Linked DNA regions of Homo sapiens. The protein of the gene in region 2 purifies or fractionates together with the protein of the main gene of each other region. This does not show direct contact. Each region holds a gene or a part of one and is shown on either strand. Other genes may lie near its edges.

Region 1 (3,738 bases), on a different chromosome or scaffold from region 2:
AGGGGCGTTCTGCAAAAGAGCAGGCTTGGATTCTTCACCAAAAAACTCAATATCCTAAAAAGTAACAAAAAATGGGGGAAGGACCATTCTAGATTAAAAGAAGCCAAAGGACATAATATCTAAATGTGATGAGAGAATCCTGATTAAATCCTAGCTCTAAAAAAAGTATCAAAGACATTTTGGGGAGAACTGAGTAAATTTAAATGTGGACCAGATAAAGGATGCCATAGAATTTTTACTAATTTTCTTATTTGAACAATGGTACTGTATTAGGAGAACATCCTTATTCTTAGAAAATGCATGCTGGAGTTTTCCTTTCAAAGGGCTCAGCCAAAGAAAATATACAAGTGTGTGTTATAGACAGAGGTGTGTACACATCTACAGAGACAGCAGTGCTGCAATACAACAACAGGTGAACCTAGGTGAAGGATAAGTGGGCGTGTCTGTTACAGACAGGTGTGTACACATGTGTAAATAGAGACAGCAGTGCTGCAATACAACAACAGGCAAACCTAGGTGAAGGGGAAGTGGGCGTGTGTTTCAGAGAGAGGCGTGTACACATGTGTAAAGAGAGACAGCAGTGCTGCAATACAACAGGCGAACCTAGGTGACAGGGTAGTGCGTGTTGTGTGTTACAGACAGTGGTGTGTACACATGTGTAAAGAGAGACAGCAGTGCCGCAATACAACAGGTGAACCTAGGTGAAGGGTTAGTGGGCGTGTGTTTCAGAGAGAGGTGTGTACACATGTGTAAAGAGACAGCGGTGCTGCAATACAACAGGTGAACCTAGGTGAAGGGTTAGTGGGCGTGTGTTTCAGAGAGAGGTGTGTACACATGTGTAAAGAGACAGCAGTGCTGCAATACAACAGGCGAACCTAGGTGAAGGGTTTGTGGGTACACTGTACTACTCTGTTGGTTTTTATGTAGGCTTGAAACTTTTCTAAGCAAAAAGCTTAGGAAAGCACTGCAGGCGCAGGAGTGAGACCATCTTGCTCCTCCCGTCCTCTAGGCCTCCGACTGCCCTTCCAATGAATTCTCATGAGAAACAGCAGGGCAGTCATGCGGGCCCCTCTGCCCCGCCCTACACAGTGGTGCCAGGTGGTGGGCCCAGGTCCAGCCAGGGCTTTGCTGTGGGGCCCCTCTGCATCTGGTGGACGTCGGGGAGCACCACATCCAAGCTAACATGCATGGGAAGCAGCGCTCCCCGAGCTGCAGCATCTTCCTCACCAATGAGCTGGCCTGCAGCGGGGTCAGGCCCATGTGGCGGAGCTCATGGGGGCCCAGCTCAGCGCCTGCTGCACCCTGATGCAGCAACAACACAGTGCTGCGTTCAGCCACTGACCACCGGGAGGTCTGTATTACTATGGCTATCGCTGACGGAGCTGGCAGAATAAACGCTGACCTGATGTCAGGACGGAGCAGTTTAATGCGTGTGATGCCCCCAGAACAGACCCAGGCTGCCATAAAGATCTCTACGCATGGTCGTGACTGCTGCCTGCTCCCGTTCCAGCCTCAGAGTCAAGGAATTAGCTTTCCAATCTCAAGCTTCTTTTTAAAAACGTTGTCCTGGCCAGACGCGATGGCTCACACCTATAATCCCAGCACTTTGGTAGGCTGAGGCAGGCGGATCACCTGAGGTTAGGAGTTCAAGACCAGCCCAACCAACATGGTGAAACCCCACCTCTACTAAAAATACAAAAATTAACCAGGCATGGTGGTGGGCGCCTGTAATCCCAGCTACTAGGGAGGCTGAGGCAGGAGAATCGCTTGAACCCGGGAGGCAGAGGCTGCAGTGAGCCGAGATCATACCACTGCACTCCAGCCCGGGCGACAGAAAGAGACTCCGTCTATTAACAAACAAACAAACAAACAAAAAGTCCTATTTTCCTTTCCAACATCTTACTAACATTTTGAACATTAAATCTAAAACTTAGTAACTAACGTTAAACATATAAAACAGATTTTCATATTTGGAGTTCATTTATAAACCTTTCAATGCACACTGCTTATCCAGACGTCGGGGTGGAGAGCAGCACTGGTGGGAGGTAGGGGGAGCATGGAGGAGCGAGGAGCGGCCGGGAAGATCCCACAGGCATGGCTGGCAGGAGACTTGCCAGTGGACCACAGTGGGGCATGATGGGGGAACGGGGAACAGAGATTAAAAGAGAAGAACCAGGGAACACTCTAGGTAGACAGCCCCCGTGACTGGGCAGACGGTCTCATCATTGACTGAGCAGGGCCAGACTGGGGGAAGGAGACGGTCACGGAAAGAACTGAAGAGTTCTGTTAAGACCTTACACGGCTGGGCGCGGTGGCTCACGCCTGTAATCCCAGCACTTTGGGAGGCCGAGACAGGCGGATCACGACGTCAGGAGATCGAGACCATCCTGGCTATCACGGTGAAACCCCATCTCTACTAAAAATACAAAAAACTAGCCAGGCGTGGTGGCAGGTGCCTCTAGTCCCAGCTACTCGGGAGGCTGAGGCAGGAGAATGGCGTGAACCCGGGAGGCGGAGCTTGCAGTGAGCCGAGATAGCGCCACTGCACTCCAGCCTGGGCGACAGAGCGAGACTCCGTCTCAGAAAAAAAAGACCTTACACTTGAGTTGCCGGAGAGAAACCCAAGCAGAGAGGGACACACTGGATTGAGGGTCTATGTCTGTGTTTGCGCGTCTATGTGTATACCTTCTCCCAGAATATACCACGCAGACACGTGTAATAACAAAAACTAGATGGAAAAGATCCAGGAGACACCCCGTGGGTAGGAGTAACAGCTCCCGCGGCTCCTATGGTGGCGTGGCCGGCCCCTGTGCTCAGCTACAGGCTCTGGCAGCCCTGCTCTTCTCTAACCCTCTCCACCCACTCCCCCATTCTGTCTGCATTAAACTTCTTGAGAGAACTTCGGAGGGTGCCTTCTCTTAATCTCCTACATCCTTTGAAATAGCCAAAATGGAGCTAAATGTTTAGAAAAAGAATAGCAGAATTTGAAAGGTAGTTATTTTTTTGAAAGATAGTAGAGTCGGAAATACTGAAAATTAAGGCTAGAATTAAGTTTTCATGTCAACCCACAGAACTTTTTCATGACTAAGGACAGATGTCTAAACTACCGCAACTCACTCCGTGTGTCCCTGGAAAACATTCACCGAGTGGATGGAGGGGTCCCTGAAATCCCAGAGGCGGAAAGTCGTGTCACGGGAGGAGGTCACCACGAGCCGCTGGGTGGGGTGTGTGCAGCAGTGCGTCAACTCCTGGTCGTGCCCTGTAACCAAGATGGCAAAACACAAGGTCATCACCTGAGGAGCACGCTGAGAGAGACGCTTTTCAACAGCACAAGAACCCAAGAAGCCGTCTCTCTGAGACTGTGAACCTGACCTAATGGAATCACTCAGCAGCATGTGGGTCACAGTGGGGCAGGTTTTCCCTCAGAAGCTGAAGTCCTTTCAGCCGTCCATGTCAAAGGAACAGAAAACCAAACAGGTGCATAACCCATTTTCTGACCCTACCAGTTAGAAGGTCAGGCAAATTAACAGGTTGAATGTGAGAACCACTTAAATCTTGATTCTTTGCTTAGAATACCTTCTAATGATACAACGCTATGGGTCCTCAGTCAAATACAATCTTTAACGCTCATGCAGGAAATGCACTTAGAGATAGATTCGCAGAAGCAACTTCAGCAGGCAGCATCCCAAGATGGCCCCAAGCCACCCCCACCCCGTACATGCCTAACACCCTTCCCTT
Region 2 (3,164 bases):
CAAAACTTCCATGACTTATGACAGCTTGACTATTTACTATCTATCTTGCTCTGGAAAACAAATGCAAGTCTCGTCTCTTTCTTTAGGTATCATGGTATCAGTATCCGACTTACAACATTTGAGACTTTCTTTAAGAGATACGACTTTCTAATATTTGAGTTTTTAACGACATCTGGCCCTTATTTAACCATCACATTTACATCCAATTCCTGCAGGCAAAGTTTTGTTGTTTAAGCTTGGCTAGATGCCCTCTGCAGAAAGCCTTTGCTTTAATGAACACAATTCCACAAAAACTGCTAGAGTTCCCTGCTCTCTTCTCACCCCTGCCACTGTACAACAATAGCATGTAAAGTTTCATCTTGAGTTTCAAATAAGAAGGTAAAAATAAGAAACTGTGTTGCTGGAGAATTAGCTCTTTGTAGTGGCCACTGCTATGACATATTCAACTTGATGCCCTTAGATTATTTGCAGAGTGTTTATGTACTATGAAATGTTCGGCCAGAGCATACAGGAAACTGTAAAATATTTTATGAGATGTATACATGGTTGATGGTAGAATTTTAAATGTAGCCTGGAAAGGTTCTATCCAAATTCCAGGGGGGCAGATGAGAGAATATGTTCTCTTTAGTGATTCAGTTTTACACAAGAGGTTATATGAACTGGAAAGCATTGCCTGATTTGAGAACTACGTAAAAAAATTCATAAAATTAAACTTTATAATTAATTCTAAACAAGTAAACATGTTTTCTTTCAGACCAAGAATCACCAGTTATGTTTATTTGTCTTCTACATGGTAAAAGCATCAGACATGGCTTGTTTATTATTTTATAAAAACAAAGAACAGCAATAAATGAAGGGTTCTCCCCAGATACAGGAATTATATACACCATTTAAAAAATATTTGTGCTTCTGATGGTTTTCAAATAAAAAGTCTTGGTTTTAAAATTGAAACAGTATTTTTGAATCACAACGATTACAATCTAAGAAGGCAGGAAAGCTAATGGCATAACCCTCTAAATGGCACGTTCAGAAAGTTATACTTCCAAATTTAGGTGAAGGGAGAAATATTTCTACTTTCTTTACCCTTAAATCTAGGAAGCAGTATCAAGAGACGCTATTTATTTATTGGCTTATTTATTTTCAAATTCAGTCTCTAAAATACAAGGGACAAAAAATAGAAACTAGCTTTGTATATTTCCATTTGACTTAGAGTTAAGCCTGATGTGTAAGATAACAGACTGTTTACTTAATACCACAGTCACACTGAAGATTTTACTATATAACACGTATGCTTTAGGATGTATCCATAATTAGTACAGTTTTTAAATAAATTTACATCGTTGTCTAGGATAAATATGCCATAAAACCCCAACATGTCTTAGTAATATTCTTATGCTAACCCAGTATGGTAGAAAATACTGTATAATACCGACTGAAAATTAGGGACCATCGATTCTCATCTCTGGTCTGTCACTACATTATTGAGTGATCTTAGGAAACTCACTTTCCCTCTCTAGGCCATGGTTTTTTCATTTGCAAGATGAGCAGCTGTTCTTAATGATCTCTAAGACTATCTTCTGCTCTAACATTATGATTATTGAGAAAATAATTTACTGAAGTTTTCTTAAACATTCCTTCTGTAAATTTTCTTTTGTTTCTATAGTCACTGCTGAAGGAAGTTTTATTTCACTTCAAATTTAGTATTGTGCAAAGAGTCAGAGAAAGAACCTAAGTATAAAAAATAGAAAAGGGAATTAAAAATATTGAGCAATTATGGGGACATGTAGGCTGGTTCAGGACAGACATAAATGACCTTGCTTTATTCTAAATTCAGCTTACTGGCTTATGATGAAAAATGAAAGGTTTTATATGAACTTACTGGGCAAAACCAGATTTTATAAATAATTACCTGTCAGACTGTTCAAGATAGACAAACATATGCCAGACCAACAAAAACACAGACCTGTCATATTTCTGAGAGAAATGTACATTGAGTCTTCCTTCTCTGGGACTATAAGGAGATCAGGTGGAATAAAACGAAGGAAAAAAACCCAAACCCTATATTTTCTGCCTTGTGCATACTTTAAAATGTATAATGTGGGAGAGAAGGAATTTTGATGTGAAAAATTATCCCCTGAAAATTTTATACCATCTATAAGCCTGGCAGATCAAAACCAAATACAATAAATGCTATCGTTTAAAAGTTAAGTTAAGTTAGGATGTTTACTGCAAGCTTGTAATTTTCCATGATTATGGATGCCAAGGAAAATAAGAATGATAAAAAGTTTAATCATAATCATACATTTTAACAAGCATAGATGGAACATCAAAATCCTTTGGGAATATTTTGATATTATATATCTATCCGTGCTTTTTGTTTCTGAAATGCAAATTTTTTCTAAAAAGATTAACATAGAGCAGGTAAATGACAGTTAACAAATGTAAATAATGTGGCATAATAATATTAACTGAGCCTCATAATTCTTTGAGTCTGATGGTTTTCAAATAAAAAGTCTTGAATTTAAAATTGAAACAGTGTTTTTGAATCGCAACTATTACAATATAAGAAGGCAGGAAAGCTAATGACATAACCTCTAAATGGCATGTTCAGAAAGTTTTATACTTCCAAATTTGGGTGAAGGGAGAACTATTTCTACTTTCTTTACCCTTAAATCTAGGAAGCAGTATCAAGAGAGGCTTGCTCTCTTGAGCAGTATCAAGAAAAAGGAGCAGTATCAAGAAAAAGATCTTTCATGTTTCTCATTTCTGTTTTTATTAATTCTTTAGAAAGAGTGTTTCAAGTATGTGTAAAAACCATAAAAGTAAAATTATACAAAACTCCCACAGAATTAAAGAAATAACTTTCTTTTTTGCAACTGAAGTTTAATCAGGAACTGTACAATTACATCTGCTATATTTTGGTTTGTTCCAAAGAGTTACGGTTCCTCATTTACTGGAGAAAGTATAGATGCCAGAAGGGTAGCTCGGCTGCTAACAGCAAGAAATTACCCAGCCCACATTTCCAGTCTAGGTGTGGTAGTGCTTTGAAGGGAGGAAGCAAGAAATCACTCTGCTCCCCTTCTACTGATTCTGAATACTTGGCTTCTAAATGTGTATGGCATGTGCAGGAGTGGTGGATCTGGGGATTGGAGGAACAGGAAAAG
Region 3 (3,738 bases), on a different chromosome or scaffold from region 2:
ACGGGAGATTTCATTCTCCAATTACATGGCTACCAAGTCATGGCAGGATTACATTTTTAATAAAGATCAAACCCTTTAGATGGTACAAATATGGATCTAATACACACCTGTACTGGGAGTGGTGGCTCCAATCACCTGCCCCGGCTGCTTGTCCATGATAACATAAGGATTATTAATAACAGAGCCGGCAGTGCCTTGCTTCACGTGGACTGGAGTGGAAGTCGGGGTTCGAGGCAATGGTGATGGGCTTGGAGTTGATATTGGGGAACCTTATTAATTAAAAAGAGAGAATACAAACAAAATACACATATTCAACTCACGTAAGAAGATGTCGAGGACAAGGAAGAAGGTCAGTGCCACCAGGACAAAGGTAACAAATTGGGAAAATAAAATGGATACTGCGTGCTCCCGGTACTGAGCAGCAACAGAGGTACAAAGGAGGCAGAGGATGTATGTTTCATGCTCTGCATCCTTATCCATGGATCAACAGCATCAGTATCATCGAGGAAATTGTAAGAAACAGATTTTATGGTCCCATCCTTGACCTACTAAACATAAATCTCACTTCAACAAGATCTCCTGGTATGCACCTTATAGTTCAGAAAGCAGTGCTTTACACAGCAGTGCAAAACTGCTGAACCTTTTTTTGTAACTGCTGAATCTTGATATGATAAATCTTTTAACACCATAGGCAGGCTTTTATAGTACTGGTTATACTCGAAGACACTAAAATTAGAGACCGGGCATGAGACACCAGGTGCAGTGGCTCGTGCCTGTAATCCCAGCACTTTGGGAGGCCGAGGCAGGCGGATCACCTGAGGTTGTGAGTTCGAGACCAGCCTGACCAACATGGAGAAACCCTGTCTCTACTAAAAATACAAAATTAGCTGGGTGTGGTGGCGCATGCCTGTAATCCCAGCTCCTCGAGAGGCTGAGGCAGGAGAATCGCTTGAACCCGGGTGGCGGAGTGAGCCGAGATCGTGCCATTGCACTCCAGCCTGGGCAACAAGAGCAAAACTCTGTCTCAAAAAAAAAAAAAAAAAAAAAAAAAAAAAGAAAGGAAGGAAGAAAATCAGTAAGTAAACAGCTAGATTTAAGAACCTGGTGTCTTGTTTTGAATAGGAAAATATGAAATTCACCTACCCAGAATAAAAGTCTCTGTCAATACTATGTCACAGCCGTAACCCAGAAAGATTCGTGTTCCCGCAAAATACTCTCAAAAGTTACTGACAGTTAAACATCCTCTACTGTCTTTTATTGATCAAACGTCATCCATGAATTTCTTTAAACTTCAAATCAATTTATATGTTCAGCCTATTCCACCTCTGAAGTAGCAAGTTCCAAAATTTTTCTACCTGGTAGGTAAAATTGCCTACCAATGACAGGGGACGGTGGCTCACGCCTGTAACCGGAGCACTTTGGGAGGCCAAGGTAGGTGGATCACCTGAGGTCAGGAGTTCAAGACCAGCCTGGCCAATATGGTGAAACTCCGTCTCTACTAAAAATACAAAATTAGCTGGGAGTGGTGACACGTGCCTGCAGTCCCAGCTACTTGGGAGGCTGAGCCAGGAGAATCACTTGAACCCGAGAGAGGTGGAGGCTGCAGTGAGCTGAGATCGCGCCATTGCACTCCAGCGTAGGTGACAAGAGTGAAACTCCATCTCAAAAAAAAAAAATTGCCTACCAATTAGAAGCTATTTATCTCTCATCAAAGATTTGGATCCTATTTCTACTTAGCTGTCTACTTACAACACCAAACATTCTTTTTTTCCCCCCTTCATTTAACTATTATACAGAAGTCCTCATACTTCCTGGTTATTTCCAATTGCCTTTTAACAAACATGTTTTGTTCTAAGGTGGAACAGTCAAAACCATATATTCCTACTAAATTTTACCTAACATAAAATGAAACTATCACAAGGCAAAAGATAATCCAATCTTAGTGAACAAGACAACTCAGAACTACCTACTGACAATAGGAATGAATAATTTTCTAGTGTGGTTACAGACAGAATAAAGCATTTCAATTCCCAACCAACTCTAACCCTTAAAATTTAACTCCATGCCAAAGGCCTCTAAATTTTTTCTATCACTAGTCACTGTGGTTTCCATGTATATAATCCCCAAACACGATTCCTACACCTTAGTTTCAGCCATATATCCTAGCAAACATTTTACCTGTGCTGATTCTGGCAGACAAAAATTTGACCATTTGAGTTTCATTTATCTCCTCCATTCATTTCCGTATGAATGAGCTTTGTTTTTGCCTTGTGACAGCTTTGCCAATCAACAGTGATAAACTTCCTTTTGTTAAACATAACACTGCTTAGAAGAACTTAAGAGAAAAAAAGCCAAGTATTTTGTTTTGTTGTTCCAACAATTTTAACATCCAGTCAACTCCACATACACTGTCTTCAAAACATCTGCATACCTGACACAATCTTGCAGCTCATGGTGATGGGCTGGAAGGATTTTCCAGGTGACTCAGGATTAGGAACCTGACTTTGTGGAACAATTTTGCAGCTTGATGCTATTGGCTGGAAAGCTGAATTGCCATGGGAACAAAAGGTAACTTTCTGGGATGTAGTCATTTTGGTGGGTGTTCTTTCCAATGAAGATGGCAAAGCATAAAACGGAGTGTGTCGTTCAGCTTCAGTGCTAGCTGGGAATCCTGCTTGAGATGAAAGAGGCAAACGGCAAGTCATCAATCGCTTTGAAATAAAACCTTACCGTTGTGGAAAAAGAATAAAAATGCATTATTTCAACACCATTTTAAACCATGTACTGGTAGCAAAATAAATACAATCAATCATCCCTTCATATTTTTGGTGAAAAATATATATGCTTAGAATAATGTTTAAAGTGCTTTTTTAAAAAAACTTGAAAACATTATTAACTATAAACCATGTATAACATAAAAAGAACAAAAGTTCTTATGTTCCTCCATTTTTTAATATATAAACTGAAAAACTGTTTAGAGAAGAAAAAATCTTAGAAAGCATTCACTAAATCTAATGATATCCTCCTATCTTATTTATTTACTTATTTTTGAGACATTATTTCACTTGTCACCCAGGCTAGAGTGCAGTGGTGTGATCTCAGCTCACTGCTACCTCCACCTCCCGGGTTCAAGCAATTCTTGTGCCTCAGCCTCCGGAATAGCTGGGATTACAGGTATGCACCACCATCCCTGGCTAATTTTTGTATTTTTAGTAGAGACGGGGTTTTGCCATGTTGGCCAGGCTGGTCTTGAACTCCTGACCTCAGGTGATCCGATGGTTTCAGCCTCCCAAAAGGCTGGGAATTACAGGCATGAGCCACCGTGCCCGGCCCCTCTTGTATCTTATTAAATGCCCATAAAAAAGATGCAATTGAAATCTAAAGAGGAATAAAGTTGAGATTTTATAAAAGAACTATAATACTAACCACATTAAAATATAGGCTTAGAAATAAAACATTTAAGATCAATTTTATATCTTTTATGCTTATATATGGGAACATTAAAATATGTATTTATACACATATATTTGTTAAATTTAAAAATGGCATGGTCAAAATACATTGTTGGTGATGAATCTTTTCTTAAGTAAAACCAGGTATTTAATATCCAAGTTTCTTGCTCGCACAATCAGAAGCTGAACCATAAAGTCTTCCTGTAATACATTATAAGGAATTATCAAGTGATAAAAATCTGTTTTAGGCCAGGCGTGGTGGGTCATGCCTGTAATCCCAGCACTT
Region 4 (3,738 bases), on a different chromosome or scaffold from region 2:
TTAGCAGGGTCCTGACCACAAAGGGTAGCTTAAAATTTGTCCTCAACAGGACAAAGGGAAAGCCACTGAGAATTCAGGCAGAACCTGAAATCAATAACAGAGACCGCTCAGAAGCAAAAACCAGCTAACTAGTAAATTCTGCATTTCCTGTGAAAATGTTACTATTAATTTGTTAACAGTGACTAAATTTGAAGTTGAACCCATTTTAAGAAAAACATTTCCACATGCCAGAAAATGACCCTCTTCACAGTTATATATGTATTTCTCTGACTTGGTTACAAATTATATTACACAAAGGCATTCCTCAAGTACCTATATCTTTACTAGTCTCTTGCCTAATGGGAAAATCCTGTTTCGGTATAAACCATATGATGGCTGGCAAGCCATACTCCTCAGGTGCCAGGAAGCTGGCCATTGAAAATCTCAAGATCAGGGCCGAGCACAGTAGCACATGCCTGTAATCCCAGCACTTTGGGAGGCCGAGGCGGATGGATCACCTGAGGTTGGGAGTTTGAGACCAGCCTGACCAACATGGAGAAGAAACCTCATCTCTACTAAAAATACAAAATTGGCCGGGCATGGTGGCGCATGCCTGTAATCCCAGCTACTCGGGAGGCCGAGGCAGGAGAATCACTTGAACCTGGGAGACGGAGGTTGCAGTGAGCCAAGATCATGCCATTGCACTCCAGCCTGGGCAATAAGAGGAAAACTCCGTCTCAAAAAAAAAAAATAAAATAAAAAAAAAAATTAGCCAGGTGTGCTGGCAAACACTATAATCCCAGCTACTTGGGAGGCTGAGGCAGGAGAATCGCTTGAACCCAGGAGCCGAGATCATGCCATTGCACTCTAGCCTGGGCAACAAAAGCAAAACTCCATCTCAAAAAAAAAAAAGAAAGAAAAGAAAATCTCAAGATTGAGGCAATCAGGGAGTGTGTATGAGGTATCTCTTGCCAGCAGAAAAAAAGGAAAATGGAAAAAAAGACTGGTCCTAGAAAAAGGGCAAAAAACACCTTCAATCTGCTAATTCTAACCTCTTTTCAGTATACAATAGCAGGAGTTCTCCACGTAAGTTAAATATTAACAAAGTAATTTTTATAAACTTGAACATGAATTCAACACTGGGACTGGAATTTGGCCCTAAATCTCTGTGACCTTGTTAGAAAAATATGGCTAATTCTTTAAGTAACACAGGATTTCCAATTTTCTCAATTTTATTGAGTTACCACCAAAAGTGTTAATTTAACAATGTGATAGAGGTTGACAGTACGTTTCATTAGTACAAACATGCCTATGTTTTATATAAATTTATAGCTGATCAACTAGAGAATAAATATAATTATCCTTTTATTTAGGTCTCTTTTACATTCACGTTTCTTTCACAGGTTGGAAAAACAAACCTTCACACAGGAATTGACAAATCAAAGGAATTGAGAAGCTCCTTACTGGCTGGTATCCATTTTTGGCACTTGTCACAGAAGTAGGACAGCTGCTCCTCCATCCAAGACACGTCTCCTTCATCACTGTTGAGGGAATCCCCACTCTGGTCGTGCGATAAGTCCACTGATGCCTGATCCTCGGATTCGACGATCAGGAGCGTCTCTCCCTCCACTTCACCTTCCTCCAGTCCTTCTGAGGTCGATGTTCTCGTGGCTTCGTCATCATGCCGACTGATCAGACTACTCAGGTGGATGCTACTATCCATCCCTTCCTTCTCACAAGCTCGGCAGTGCTTCTCAGTAACAACCCTAAGCACTGGACAGTGACCCTAATGGGGCTTCTACCAGGATCACCCAGACAGACTCTTCCAAAAAGTGTCTGCCCACACTCCTTTATTCAGATATAAGGGACCCTGAAAGCAGTAACTTATATGACCCACTGTCCTTTATTTGATCAAGTTTAAAAGGACAGTGACCAAAAAAAAAGATGAAGATACTACTAAGCTACTCTCCATCAACACACACACACAAACTCGTGTTGTCTGTCCAACAGATATTTCACATTCAAGTCATGATTTTTGAGATCCTTTTGCCAATAACATCTTCTCTCTTTCTGCTTCAAGTTGCTCAGTCAAAATAATCTGTTCTCCCAAAAGACGAATGTTTTCTTTTTTCCGAATTTGCCTCTCAATGTCTCTGATAACTCCGTCACGAAGCCTCTAAAAACGTAAGAAACAGATTTCAGTAACATCCCGAACAGGTGGTCCCCATCCTTGTGCCATTCAAATCCAAATAACAGTGTTACCAAAATATACTTAAAACTTTCAGATTCCAAATACCCAGTTACTATTTTAATTTTCTGTACAAATGTAAAATGTAATAAACGATCAAATAAATTTGGTAGTGTGCTAAATGTTATTACTGAAATGATTTCTTATCATATTTTAAGAAATTCCTGAACATTTAGTACAGAAAATTTAATGGGAAATAACAGAAAAAAAAAACTGGCACTATGTTAAATTTTTTTTTATTTATTTTTTGAGACAAGAGTCTCGCTCTGTCGCCCAGGCTGGAGTGCAGTGGCTGCACTCCGCAGCTCACCGCAACCTCCACCTCCTGGGTTCAAGTGATTCTCCGGCCTCAGCCTCCCGAGTAGCTGAGACTACAGGCGTGCATCACCATGCCCAGCTAATTTTTGTATTTTTAGTAGAGACGGGGTTTCACCACGTCAGCCAAGCTGGTCTCGAACTCCTGATCTCAAGTAATCCACCTGCCTCAGCCTCCCAAAGTGCCGGATTACAGGCGTGAGCCACTGCACCCGGCCAATGTTAAATTTTTAAAGTTTAATTGATATGTAATGCTTTAAAAACTTGGCGAGTTACTACAGTAACACTCTAAACTACTCTTCTGTTAGCACTTATCCTAGCTGAACAATAAACACCAACAGAAAAAATGCAGATTACTAAAATCTCAACTTGGCTTCTAGCATGTAAAGTTAACAATGTAAAAATCATGCAGAATTATTAATTAATTATATAACAGAGAAAGAAGAAAAAGAAGGATGCTACTACCAGCGGAAAAAATAAATGCTCATCAATGGTAGTTACCTTAGTAAGCACTAAAAAACCACAGCACTTCAGAACGTGGACCTGGCACCCAAGAAGAGACTTTTAAAAACATCAGTCATTACTAATAACTAACATTTTATAGTTTATTGCTCACAAAATACTCTAAAGGTTTTAGGCCAGGCGTGGTGGCTCACTCCTGTAATCCCAGCACTCCTGTAATCTTAGGCCAAGGCAGGCAGACTGCTTGAGCTCAGAAGTTCTAGACCAGCCTGGGCAACATGGCAAAATCCCATCTCTAGCAAAAATAAAAATAAAAAAAAAAAAAAAAAAAAAAATTGCAGGGAGTGGTGGTGTGTGCCTGTGTTCCCAGCTACTCCGGAGGCTGAGGTGATAGGATCACCTCAGCCTGGGAGGCACAGGCTGCAGTGAGCTAAGATTGTGCCACTTCACTCCCACCTGGGTGACAGAACAAGCCCCATCTCAAAATAAATAAATAGGGTTTTTTTTGTTTTGTTTTATTGGTTTTTTTTTTTTTTTTTTGAGAAGGAGTCTCGTTCTGTCACCCAGGCTGGAGATCTTGGCTCCATGGCACGATCTTAGCTCACTGCAATCTCCACCTTCTGAGTTAAAGCGATTCTTGTGCCTCAGCCTCCCCAGTAGCTGAGATTACAGGCGTGCGCCACCAGGCCTGGCTAATTTTTTTGTATTTTTAGTAGAGACGGGGTTTCACCACG

What was found.
Region 1: the proteins of SUPT3H (region 2) and WDR37 purify together in Homo sapiens (affinity purification with mass spectrometry, with the first as the bait; one large-scale study listed by BioGRID). This does not show direct contact.
Region 3: the proteins of SUPT3H (region 2) and YEATS2 purify together in Homo sapiens (affinity purification with mass spectrometry, with the first as the bait; one large-scale study listed by BioGRID). This does not show direct contact.
Region 4: the proteins of SUPT3H (region 2) and KAT14 purify together in Homo sapiens (affinity purification with mass spectrometry, with the first as the bait; one large-scale study listed by BioGRID). This does not show direct contact.

The regions. Positions count from the first base shown.
Region 1 is NC_000010.11:1,104,647-1,108,384, reverse strand, and holds part of WDR37 (WD repeat-containing protein 37), read right to left. Parts: intron 3,260-3,738; coding exon 3,118-3,259; intron 1-3,117. UniProt on the Homo sapiens protein: Required for normal ER Ca2+ handling in lymphocytes. Together with PACS1, it plays an essential role in stabilizing peripheral lymphocyte populations.
Region 2 is NC_000006.12:44,825,983-44,829,146, forward strand, and holds the end of SUPT3H (transcription initiation protein SPT3 homolog), read right to left. Parts: 3' UTR 744-3,164; downstream 1-743.
Region 3 is NC_000003.12:183,753,059-183,756,796, reverse strand, and holds part of YEATS2 (YEATS domain-containing protein 2), read right to left. Parts: intron 2,675-3,738; coding exon of another isoform or gene 2,672-2,674; coding exon 2,432-2,671; intron 270-2,431; coding exon 108-269; intron 1-107. UniProt on the Homo sapiens protein: Chromatin reader component of the ATAC complex, a complex with histone acetyltransferase activity on histones H3 and H4. YEATS2 specifically recognizes and binds histone H3 crotonylated at 'Lys-27' (H3K27cr).
Region 4 is NC_000020.11:18,140,625-18,144,362, reverse strand, and holds part of KAT14 (cysteine-rich protein 2-binding protein), read right to left. Parts: intron 2,156-3,738; coding exon of another isoform or gene 2,006-2,155; 5' UTR 1,703-2,005; coding exon 1,444-1,702; exon of another isoform or gene 1,194-1,443; intron 1-1,193. Other genes in the region: protein PET117 homolog, mitochondrial precursor, read right to left, coding at 2,006-2,155. UniProt on the Homo sapiens protein: Component of the ATAC complex, a complex with histone acetyltransferase activity on histones H3 and H4. May function as a scaffold for the ATAC complex to promote ATAC complex stability. Has also weak histone acetyltransferase activity toward histone H4.